3 linked regions of the Homo sapiens genome follow. The protein of the gene in region 2 interacts with the protein of the main gene of each other region in a pairwise test. Each region holds a gene or a part of one and is shown on either strand. Other genes may lie near its edges. The genes, in order: IMMT, ALB and WFS1.

What was found.
Region 1: the proteins of ALB (region 2) and IMMT interact in a two-hybrid assay, tested with the Homo sapiens proteins (one large-scale study listed by BioGRID and IntAct).
Region 3: the proteins of ALB (region 2) and WFS1 interact in binary tests that used the Homo sapiens proteins (3 or more experiments, as listed by UniProt).

The regions. Positions count from the first base shown.
Region 1 is NC_000002.12:86,188,849-86,192,499, forward strand, and holds part of IMMT (MICOS complex subunit MIC60), read right to left. Parts: intron 1-3,651. UniProt on the Homo sapiens protein: Component of the MICOS complex, a large protein complex of the mitochondrial inner membrane that plays crucial roles in the maintenance of crista junctions, inner membrane architecture, and formation of contact sites to the outer membrane.
Region 2 is NC_000004.12:73,402,687-73,406,437, reverse strand, and holds the start of ALB (albumin preproprotein), read right to left. Parts: upstream 2,152-3,751; 5' UTR 2,111-2,151; coding exon 2,032-2,110; intron 1,323-2,031; coding exon 1,265-1,322; intron 1-1,264. UniProt on the Homo sapiens protein: Binds water, Ca(2+), Na(+), K(+), fatty acids, hormones, bilirubin and drugs. Its main function is the regulation of the colloidal osmotic pressure of blood. Major zinc transporter in plasma, typically binds about 80% of all plasma zinc.
Region 3 is NC_000004.12:6,272,850-6,276,500, reverse strand, and holds part of WFS1 (wolframin), read right to left. Parts: intron 1-3,651. UniProt on the Homo sapiens protein: Participates in the regulation of cellular Ca(2+) homeostasis, at least partly, by modulating the filling state of the endoplasmic reticulum Ca(2+) store.

The sequences.
Region 1 (3,651 bases), on a different chromosome or scaffold from region 2:
AATACTTTCATCCTTTTCACTCTCAAGTATCCCTCTGATGCACAAAAATTTAAAATTTTAATGAAGTCCAATTTATCTTTAGTTTCTCTTGTTGCTTGTGCTTTTGGTGTTATAGTTAAGAAACCATTGCCAAACATAAGGTCTGTCTCCAGAGCTCTCTTAAGTACTAAACTATTAACATAAACTAAATATCCTACATTAACACACAAAATATTGGCTACTTTTTTGTCCTGGAATTCCTTTTTATTAATAAGGACCTATGACATAGAAAGGACAACACTGTTTCAAAGCAATCTGTCTAGACATATGTTATAAGGTTAGCCTTGCTGCTTCTAACCCGCAGAAACGTGATATTAAAAAAAAGAGGAAACATATAATTCCCATGTAATGTTCTTTTTTTTTTTGAGATGGAGTCTCGCTGTGACACCCAGGCTGGAGTGCAATGGTGTGATCTCGGCTCACTGCAACCTCCATCTCCTGGGTTTAAGAGATTCTCCTGCCTCAGCCTCCCGGGCAGCTGGGATTACAGGCACCTGCCACCACACCCGGCTAATTTTTGTATTTTTAGTAGAGACGGGGTTTCACCATATTGGCCAGGCTGGTCTTGAACTCCTGACCTCAAGTGTTCCGCCCCATGATTAATGCTGTTACACAGACCATCTGTTCCTTAGCTCTACCAAACTAAAGTGAAGACATAAAGAAACCACAATCTAGCATGACAACCTGGACATGGAGCCTGTAGTATGAGCTGCCTCATGTGAACTCTAACTAGAGGTTCCAGGTTTCCTCCACAGACTGCTGGTTGCTGTCAACTGATAACGTTTTTGTGGATCTTGTCATACATAAGGACTCCTCCCACACAAACGAAAAAGGCACCCATAAGTTAATGGGCAGTTCTACATTTGAAATATAGATTGATATACAACAAATTAACTTTTTCTACTGTTAATTTAAAATAGTTTATAAGAATCATGCATTAAGGTTAAAAAGTATATCCCACAAAAAAATCCAGTAAGTTTTTACATTGAAATTTTACATTTTACATTACAATTTTACATTGAAGCAGCATTACATTTCAGTATAAACATATTCTATTCTAGGAGAACACGTGCTCTTTAGTTATAGAAATGGCAGATACTTATCAGTATGACAAAAGCAGGAACTTGACACTTTAGTTTTCCCTGCACATATGTGAATATATTTTGTATGTTATCACTTCGGTGTAGTAAGTTACGGCGTAAGATGTATTTCAAAATGGTTTGAAGGCTACTGGTCTAGAGATATGAAAAAAGGAACAATGAAGAGGATTCTAGCATGGGTAGAAGCAAACACCTGGCCGCATGATCTACTAAACTACTTTCTAGCACGTGTGGTTGGCTGCCTATCTCTATCACTGAGTAACATAATGTTTCATAATCCTAACAGAAAGAAGGAATTCTAGAAGATGATAGCTCATGTCCACACACAAGTTCAATCCTAAACTAGCTGGGTTATCAAACTTGGTCTTAAGTAAGCTGGAGCGGTTGATCCTCAAGAATAATAATGTTTCTTCTTCTTCTTTCAAGTTATAAGCAGGAAAGACTACTCCATATGTAAATGACCACTTCCAGGTTTGTAGTTTGAGAGAAGGCTAGGCTAGGCGGAAAGCCCATGTCCTCCAAACTCAATGACCACTTCAAAAAGGCTGGGCCTGGTGATGCAGTATTGGGACTAAGAGAAGAAAGATGGTGTTAGGTCTGAGGAATAAAAGAAGAAAACAAAAACAGAGGGACCAGAGTTCTAAAGCACATTTACTGAATACCCACATCTAAGGAATGCAAGGATGATAAGCCCAAACATAAAGAATAAGGCAGATACTGTGTCGGGTGCAGTGACTTAAGCCTGTAATCCCAGCACTTTGGGAGCCCAAGGCGGGCAGATCACGACGTCAGGAGATCGAGACCATCCCGGCTAATATGGTGAAACCCTGTCTCTACTAAAAATACAAAATATTAGCTGGGCACAGTGGCACGTGCCTGCAGTCCCAGTTACTCGAGAGACTGAGGCAGGAGAATTGCTAGAACCCAGGAGGCGGAGGTTGCAGTGAGCCGAGATTGCACCACTGCATTCCAGCCTGGGCAAAGAATAAGGTAGATACTATCTGTGATGGTTCATTTTATGTGTCAACTTGGACTGTGTTTTTGGATGAGATTAACATTTTAATTGGTGAACTAGTGGCCAGGCATGGTGGCTCACTCCTGTAATCCCATCACTTTGGGAGGCAAAGGCGGGTGGATTGCTTGAGCCCAGGAGTTTGAGACCAGCCTGGGTAATATAGCCTGTCTCTACAGAAAAAAAAATACAAAAGTTAGCTGGGTGTGGTGGTGCATGCCTGCAGTCCTAGCTACTCAGGAGGCTGAGGTGGGAGGATGGCTTGAGTCTGGTGGATGGAGGTTGTAGTGAGCTGAGATTGCACCAATGCACTCCAGCCTGGGTGACAGAGCAAGACCCTATCTCAAAAAAAAAAAAAAAAAAATTTGCCCTATAACATGGGTGGGCTTCATTCAATCAGTTGAGGGCTCAAAAACAACAAAAAGCAAGAGGCAATTCTCTAGCAGACTGCCTCCAGACTGAAACTGCACCATCCACTCTCCTGGGTTTCCAGGCTGCTGGCCAGCAGACTGCAACTGCAATATTGGCTGTCCTAGGTCTCCAGTCTGCCAAACCACACAGCAGATTCTGGACTTGCCAGTCTCCATAACTGTGTGAGTAGAGTCCTTACAATAAATCTTTCAGCCAGGCGCGGTGGCTCACGCCTGTAATCCCAGCACTTTGGGAGGCCAAGGTGGGGGGATCACAAGGTCAGGAGATCGAGACTATCCTGGCTAACACGGTGAAACCCCGTCTCTACTAAAAATACAAAAAAAAAAAAAAAAAAAAAATTAGGCGTGGTGGCAGGCGCCTGTAGTCCCAGCTACTTGGGAGGCTGAGGCAGGAGAATGGCATGAACCCGGGAGGCGGAGCTTGCAGTGTGCTGAAATGGCGCCACTGCACTCCAGCCTGGGTGACAGAGCAAGACTCCATCTCAAAAAAAATTAATAAATAAATAATAAATCTTCCTAGGCTGGGCACTATGGCTCACGCCTGTAATCCCAGCACTTTGGGGAGGAGAAGGTGGGGATATTGCTTGAGCCCAGAAGTTCAAAATGAGCTGGAACAACATTGCGAGATCCCATCTCTACTAAAAGTCCAAAACATTGGCTGGGCATGGTGGCATAAGCCTGTAGTCCCAGCTACTCAGGAGGTGAGGTGGGAGGATCGCTTAAGCCCAGGAGATTGAGACTGCAATGAGTTATGATCACACTGCTGTACTCCAGCCTGGGCAACAGAATGAGACCCTATCTCTACACACACACACACACCCTTATTGTTTCTGTTTCTCTGGAGAATCTGAATATATAATCAGAGGTTTGAAAATCTATGGGATGTTTAAAGGGAGGTCACATCCACTTACACAGATTAAGAAAAATTCCACTTTGGGAGGCCGAGGTGGGCATATCACTTGAGCCCAGAAGCTGAAGACCAGCCTGGGAAACATAATGAGACCCCATCTCTAAAAAATCTTTTTAAATTAAAAAAAAATTCATGAACACATTCATTCTTTCATTTATA
Region 2 (3,751 bases):
GAGAATGGTAGTTCCCTAATGTTTATATGTATGCGTGTGTCAGTAGATCTATGCACACACATAGATTAAGCAAGCAAATTGTATGCCAAATAGATCTAATTGTCAAGACTAGGCATTTTTAAAGTCCTTAGAATTACTTAAAACTAAAACAAACCCCACAGATTTCCTTTTTCTTTTTTGAGACAGAGTCTCACTCTGTCACCCAGGCTGGAGTGCAGTGGCACAATCATGGCTCACTGTAGCCTTGACCTCTCAGGTCCAAACGATCCTCCTACGTCAGCCTCCTAAGTAGCTAGGACTACAGGCATGTGCCACCATGCCTAATTTTTTTGTTTGTTTGTTTTGTTTTTTTTAAAGAGACTTGCCCAGGCTGGTCTTGAACTCCTGGGCTCAAGCAATCCTCCTGCATCAGCCTTCCAAAGTGCTGGGATTACAGGTGTGAACCACCGCACCTGATCCCCACACACGTCTTTAATTAGCCTGTAGGATTAGGTAGACTTTTAAAAAAACAATTTTCTCATTTTTTACTAGATTAAAAAACATTTAAATAGGCCGGGCGCGGTGGCTCACTCCTGTAATCCCAGCACTTTGGGAGGCCGAGGTGGGCAGATCACGATGTCAGGAGATTGAGACCATCCTGGCACACGGTGAAACCCCATCTCTACTAAAAATACAAAAGATTAGCCGGGCGTGATGGCGGGCGCCTGTAGTCCCAGCTACTCGGGAGGCTGAGGCAGGAGAATGGCGTGAACCCGGGAGGCGGAGTTTGCAGTGAGCCGAGATTGCGCCACTGCACTCCAGCCTGGGCGACAGAGCGAGACCCTGTCTTAAAAAAAAAAAAAAATTAAATATTCCCAACTAAGCACAGGAATGCTTGCTATGTAAAGAAGATTTAGTGGGTAAGCCACCAAAGGAAACCTATATTAAAGTCCTTTCCACCAAGCAAGTTCCAGAGCTGTACTGTCCAATACAGTAGCCATTAGCCACATGTGACTATATACATTCAAATTAACTACAATTAAATACAATTTAAGTTTTTGTTTCTCAGTTGCACTTGTCATATTTGAAGTACTCAATAGCCATGTGACCAGTGACTACCTTATTGGATAGCCCAGATACAGAATATCTTCCTCAACGCAGAAAACTCTACGAGGCAGCACTGTTTTAGAATCTGAACCCTGATGACAAGGAAATATAAGCACTTTAGAATAATAAACAACACTATTAGAAACATTAAATTTGATTCATCAATATTTTAACTTACAAGGCTTTGAAATTTTCTTCTCCCAAATCTTTAAACCGATGAGCAACCTCACTCTTGTCTGGGCAAGGGAAGAAAAAAAAGGATTGTTAAATACTGAAGAAAACAAGAAGTAATAATGTTACTTTTTATATTTCTTTCCATTTGACTTAGATTATGCATTTGTTTCAAAATATTGGGCTCTGATTCCTACAGAAAAACTCAGGATGATGTTCAATTATTTCTTCTGCCTTTAAACAGAAGAATAATTCAATTACCAAGAATACTATTTTAAAAATTATTAAATATTTATAGCCTTATATTCAAACTTAGATAATATCTAATACTCTTTTAGTGTCTATCAACAGCAACCAAGAAGACAGACTAAAATGAAAATAAATATAAATACAAGTTCTATTTATGAGATCAACAGCACAGGTTTTGTGGTTTTTAAATAAAGCATAGTGCAATGGATAGGTCTTTGGGATAGTTATGAATTCAATCTTCAACCCTATTCTGTGAAGTTTCAGTCACTCTAAGTTACTTTGCACTTTCCTTAGTGCGCAAAAGAAAATTACAGTCACTAAACAATTCTGACCTTTTTTTTTTTTTACCTAGGATGTTTGAATTTTATTAATAAGATAACCTTGTAAGACTTCACAAATACAAAATACTATGCCATTTTAGAAATAAATGCCAAAATAATTCTTTAAAGATGCAGAGTTTACTAAAACTTTATTTTACTGGGAAAATAGAATAAAAGTTGAACAATAGAAAAATGGATTTCTTACGTGCATCTCGACGAAACACACCCCTGGAATAAGCCGAGCTAAAGAGAAAAAGAAGGGAAATAAAGGTTACCCACTTCATTGTGCCAAAGGCGTGTGGGGTTGACAGAAGAGAAAAGCTAGGACAAACGGAGGGAAATTAGCACTAATATACTTCTTTAACCAATAATTGTAGATTATTAACTAGACTCATCTTTGTATTTCATTGGCTGCCAACCGATTACAAAATTCATAATATTCTTGCCAAAAAATTGTTTGACTAAATCCCTTGTGTATATTTACCATCTGGAACTGTTTTCTCCACAAGACCTTGTCAATGTATTAAAGTTGTGTAAAACATCTTATCAAATTTTACATAAGAGTTTAAACGATTTGTACCTTTTATTCATTACCATGGTATTTAACTGTAATTTCCCACTTGAACATTTTAGTTCTTGGTGTTTGCAATTTAGTTCTCAGTGTTTAGTAATTACTAACCAAACTAAATACTTTGCTTAGAAATAAGACATACTGAAAGAGTTAAGTCCCAAATTGCATCTATTGCTAATTCCAAGTGTGCTTTTACCTATAGATAATGAAAAATTTACACACAAGTACTCACGCATGCACACACACATATACATACATACATATTTTAGGGCTTCTGTGTCTTTTTTACTATTCCAAAGCCATTCTGTCTGAAAAAGCTGATGTTGCCTCAGATGCAAACTAAGAAAAAGACATAGCAACAATAACAAGTAAGATAGGACTTAGAAATTCCATGTTCCCATTCCTGCTGTGGCCCACATGTGATTCAAGCCCTGAGATAGGCTATTTAGATTCAGTGTGAGTATATCTCATGGGATCTTCAGTTAAGCAGAGATGGAGAGGAAAATGGACCCAAATGAGATGATGATTATCTTTGCCATAATATACAATAGGACAGGCTGACCCCAAATTCTCTGTAGGTTATGAGAACCCTTGACCTTCACCAGGCATAGGATTCTTTCCATCCCTGTTTCATATTTTTTTCCTTTCTCTCTTTCAATAAGTAGAAAAATCACATGTTCTTTTATGTTGCTTTAAATTTCAAAATAAATTTAACATTATGTCTAAAAACAAAGCGAAGGAAGAATAATTTTTTAAATATTTCATAAATCTTCCTTCCCTACCCAAGGTTCTTATCTCTACCTCAGAAAAGCTATCCTACCTCTGCCCTTTTGCTCAGAATATGAAGAACTACTGAGCTCAACCAGTAGGAAGAACAACTTTCTCTGATACTACAGAACAATAATTAGTACTAAGCCAGTTATTTTACTTAATTAAATAACTCAGTCAGTCAAAACCAGTAGTCAAATTTCCTCATGGCACATAGAGGCACAGAGACTAACAAAGTATTATTTTTTCTACTCAGTCTTATAATGAAAGAAAATTTTTTCTATTCAGTCTTACAATGAAAGAAATTATTTTCTATAATCTTATGTTATTTCTTCTTCAGAAATGGGTACTAATTAACTAATAAAGCACAGAAGAGGAAAAAATCAAAGCTAGATGGATGATAGATACATAGATAGATAGGAAGATTTTTTTTAATGACTCAAGGGAGTCCTGAAAGGAAATACCAGACTTGTCTTTCTGACTACAGATGAACAGACATAAAACAAGTGTGCCTATTTTCCATTGAAGAAAAACAAGCATTTTTTCTAAAGCCAGAAAAACCTACATCTGAAAAGAAAAAAGAAAC
Region 3 (3,651 bases), about 67 Mb from region 2:
CCCAGAAACCAACACAGAGAGTAAAAAGCAAACTAAGGCAAACAGTGCGGTGGGGGCATCAGAAGAGACTAGAGTGAGCAGAGATCCCGTGACCCGTGTCACGCCGGAGCAAGGGCTTTATTTTATTCAACAGAGGCCCTCACATGCTGCTTAGCAACATGGAAAAACACCACCATCCCTGTAATGAAGGACAACCACCGGCCACAGACACAGAGCTGAAAGCGCTGCAGGATCCCGAGCCCCGGACCCGGATGGGCCCTGGATGAGCGGCGTTAGGGGTGGGATGCAAACCCCTGGCACTGCTGGACCTTGAACCTGCTGCTGTGTGAGGCTGTGGAAACTTTTCCTCAGATTCCCAAATGACCCTCCCAAGCTCAGGGCCACAGCCATCCTCTGAGGCACAGAGCAGGGAGAGGCTGGTAACAGAGAGTCTCGCTCCCAGCCCCAAGCTGCCGCAGCGCTGTACTCCTGGCTCTGTGCCCACCAGCTGTGTGGTCCTGAGCAGCCCACATCCCGCTCTGCACCTCAGCCTCCTCATCTGAAAATGGGGACGGGGCAACTGTGAGGACCAGTGAGACCAGACACCATGGGCAGCACGAGGGAGTCCCCTGGCCACCTCTGAACACCCAGCGCTTGGCACTGAGCAGCCAGGTCTGAGTAGGTGCCCAGAGGTCACTTTTGGGGGCAGCTGTGACTGGAAGAGTCAGGAGTGGCCCCAGGCTCCACACACAACAATTTCTGCTCCATTCCCGCTGCAAATGAGTCCTAAAGATCAGACTGGTGTCGCTCAAGAACTCTGCAGATTTCAATCCACACGTTCCTCCCTCAGAGGGACTGAGCCCTTAGTGTAAAACATCCCCCAGGTGCAAACCATGCATGGTCAAGCACACCCCCCCCCCCCACCCCACCCCCGTGCATCCCCCAGGTGCAAACCATGCATGGTCAAGCACCCCCGGGTGCATCCCCCAGGTGCAAACCATGCATGGTCAAGCTTGGGAGCCTGCTCCATCCTGTTTCCAAGTTCCCAGCTCCCGGGAACTGGCACCTTCCACAAAAGCAGCCATTTAACTGCACGTGCAGACCTAAGTGTCCCCTTAGTCAGCTGTGGCAGAGAAATACAGGATCGCACGTAGAACCCACACGCTGTGGGCAAACAGAACCACGGTCCTGCAGGCCACCGGACCACCTGAGATGGTGAAAAGTCAGGTCTTCAAATGACACGTGGCCTTGTCTACCTTCTCTCCCATGGTTCCCACTGCCCCGAAGTCAGGTGTCACTTTCTCAGACAGAGAGAGAGGGCACCTTTACTGAGGGCTGACCTACGCCAGGGCATCTCTGCCATCAAGACCAACGGCTCTGTTCTCTGTACTTGTCTTTTCTCATGAGTTTCTCGTATGGCCCTGGAAGGTAGGTCCTATTGTCGTGAGTTCCTCGCATGGACCTGGAAGGTAGATCCTATTGTCATCCCAGAGTTATAGATGGGGAAATGTTTTATCCTTCAACCTCACCCCACTTCACAGACAGGAACCCAGGTGCAGGGAGGGGAGGGACCTGCTCAAGGTCAAACAGCTCCAGGTACCAGACCTGAAATTCAAATCCAGACCTGCCCAATTCTAATGCTTCTGCAAGCTCATTTCTGAAAAAGACGACTTTGAAATCAGACCGCCATGCCACTGCACCCTCTCTCCCGGGGCCCATTCACTGCAAAACACTGGCTACCCTTCAACATCAGCATACAAATGCTGACCTCCACACTTCTGTTTCTGCAGGGCCCTCTTCCCGGAATGCCTTCTTACCCCCCTCCCCCAGCCTAGACCCTAAGCACCCTTCAAGTCAAGAGCTCCAGCGATACCTCCTTTGTGGGAGCTTCCAAGCTATGTCTGTCCCGAGTCCCTGTCTTCCTCACCTACTCAGGTAAACACACAGCACTCAGGCGATCACCTCTCCATCAGAGCCCTCCCTCTGCTAGAGGTTACAGCTGGAAGCAACATGGTGTGGGGCGTCGGTTACCCTTACTAGTGGCCACATGACCTCACTGTGTCTGTTTCCCCATATGTAAAATGGGGATAGCACCTCCCACATAGGGGTGCTATGGGGATTACGTGTGTGGCAGAAGAGAAAGCAAACTATTGGGCATTAAAAAAAAACTAAGCCGGCCAGGCGCGGTGGCTCACGCCTGTAATCCCAGCACTTTGGGAGGCCGAGGCGGGCAGATCACAAGGTCAGGAGATCAAGACCATCCTGGCTAACACAGTGAAACCCCGTCTCTATTAAAAATACAAAAAAATTAGCCAGGCGTGGTGGCGGGCGCCGATAGTCCCAACTACTGGGGAGGCTGAGGCAGGAGAATGGTGTGAACCCAGGAGATGGAGCTTGCAGTGAGCCGAGATCGCGCCACTGCACTCCAGCCTGGGTGACAAAGCGAGACTCCGTCTCAAAAAAAAGAAAAAAGAAAAAGGAAAAGAAAAACCCTAAGCCATTACTCCCAGGTGCTAAACAAAGGCATGTTCAGTTGGAAAACACTTCATAAAAGGAATTTCAGGAAAACAGATTCTAGCTGGCCTATGTACCATGTATGTCACACTGCAGTTAAAAAAAAACTGTTTAAAGTAAAATCTCTGGTTAGTAAGAATGGATGAATACAGGAGGATTAATTTTCAGGTTCCCTGGGGGTTGGCCAAGTCTGGTTTGGATCAAAGGGCTTGTTATTTCAAAACAAGCACAACAATTCCTGGTCATGGTTGGTCACAGGGACAATGAAGATCAGAAAAGATCTCCCGGTGGAAGGACCTGCTGTCTGGTCCTTCCCTCTCTGAGTCTTCCTGCATGTTACAGCCACTGTGAGCCCTGAGGGCAGGGCTGCAGCTTATCCACTCGGAAGACCGGCTGCCTTGCCAGGAATACGTTAAGCACTTAATGCATGTGGGCAGAAGCCTGAGGCAGCCTGGCCTAGGGCAGGAGCACCATCCAGGCAATAATGCTGTGGGACCTTAGCAAGTCCCTCCCCCAGACCCCAGCATCCAGGCATCTCCAGCTGCATCCACTCTGCACCCTCAGATCCCCACCTGCACGGTGGGGCACTCAGCCCCAACTCCCTACTGGTGACCACAGCAATGGCTTAGAAGCCGTCACTGTGTAAGATCCACAAAACCAAAGTTGCTAGCATTCTTTCCTCATGAGCAATGAGGCATATTTTTATCCCGTCCAAACACAAACACCGGCACCAAGGAGTTCAGCTGAGAGGCCGCCACCTGGAGAGGGCTGCAGGCACCATGCATCCACTCAGACCCGCAGCAGAATGACCACACGTGGCCTTCTGCCCTAAGGGCTCTGGCCCTCACCCAGGCCACCCCCATTCTGTTCTCTCTGGGGGGGCAACCCCATCTCCCAAGCCAGTGCCTCAGAAACAGCCCCTGTGGGAAGCCAAGATGATGTTCACTCTCTCTGATCAGTGCCTCTGCCTCCAGGATGCCAGTCCAGGGGAGTCACTGGAGATGCCCTCGGGGCTCACACACAATGTCCATCATATGGCACTTTCAGCACTGTCCAGAAAGGGGCTGGCTATAAAGCCTACACCCCTCCATATGGTGCAACGCTGTACAGCTGGTAAACGTGACCTCGTACATGAACGTTTTGAGACAAGGAAAAGGT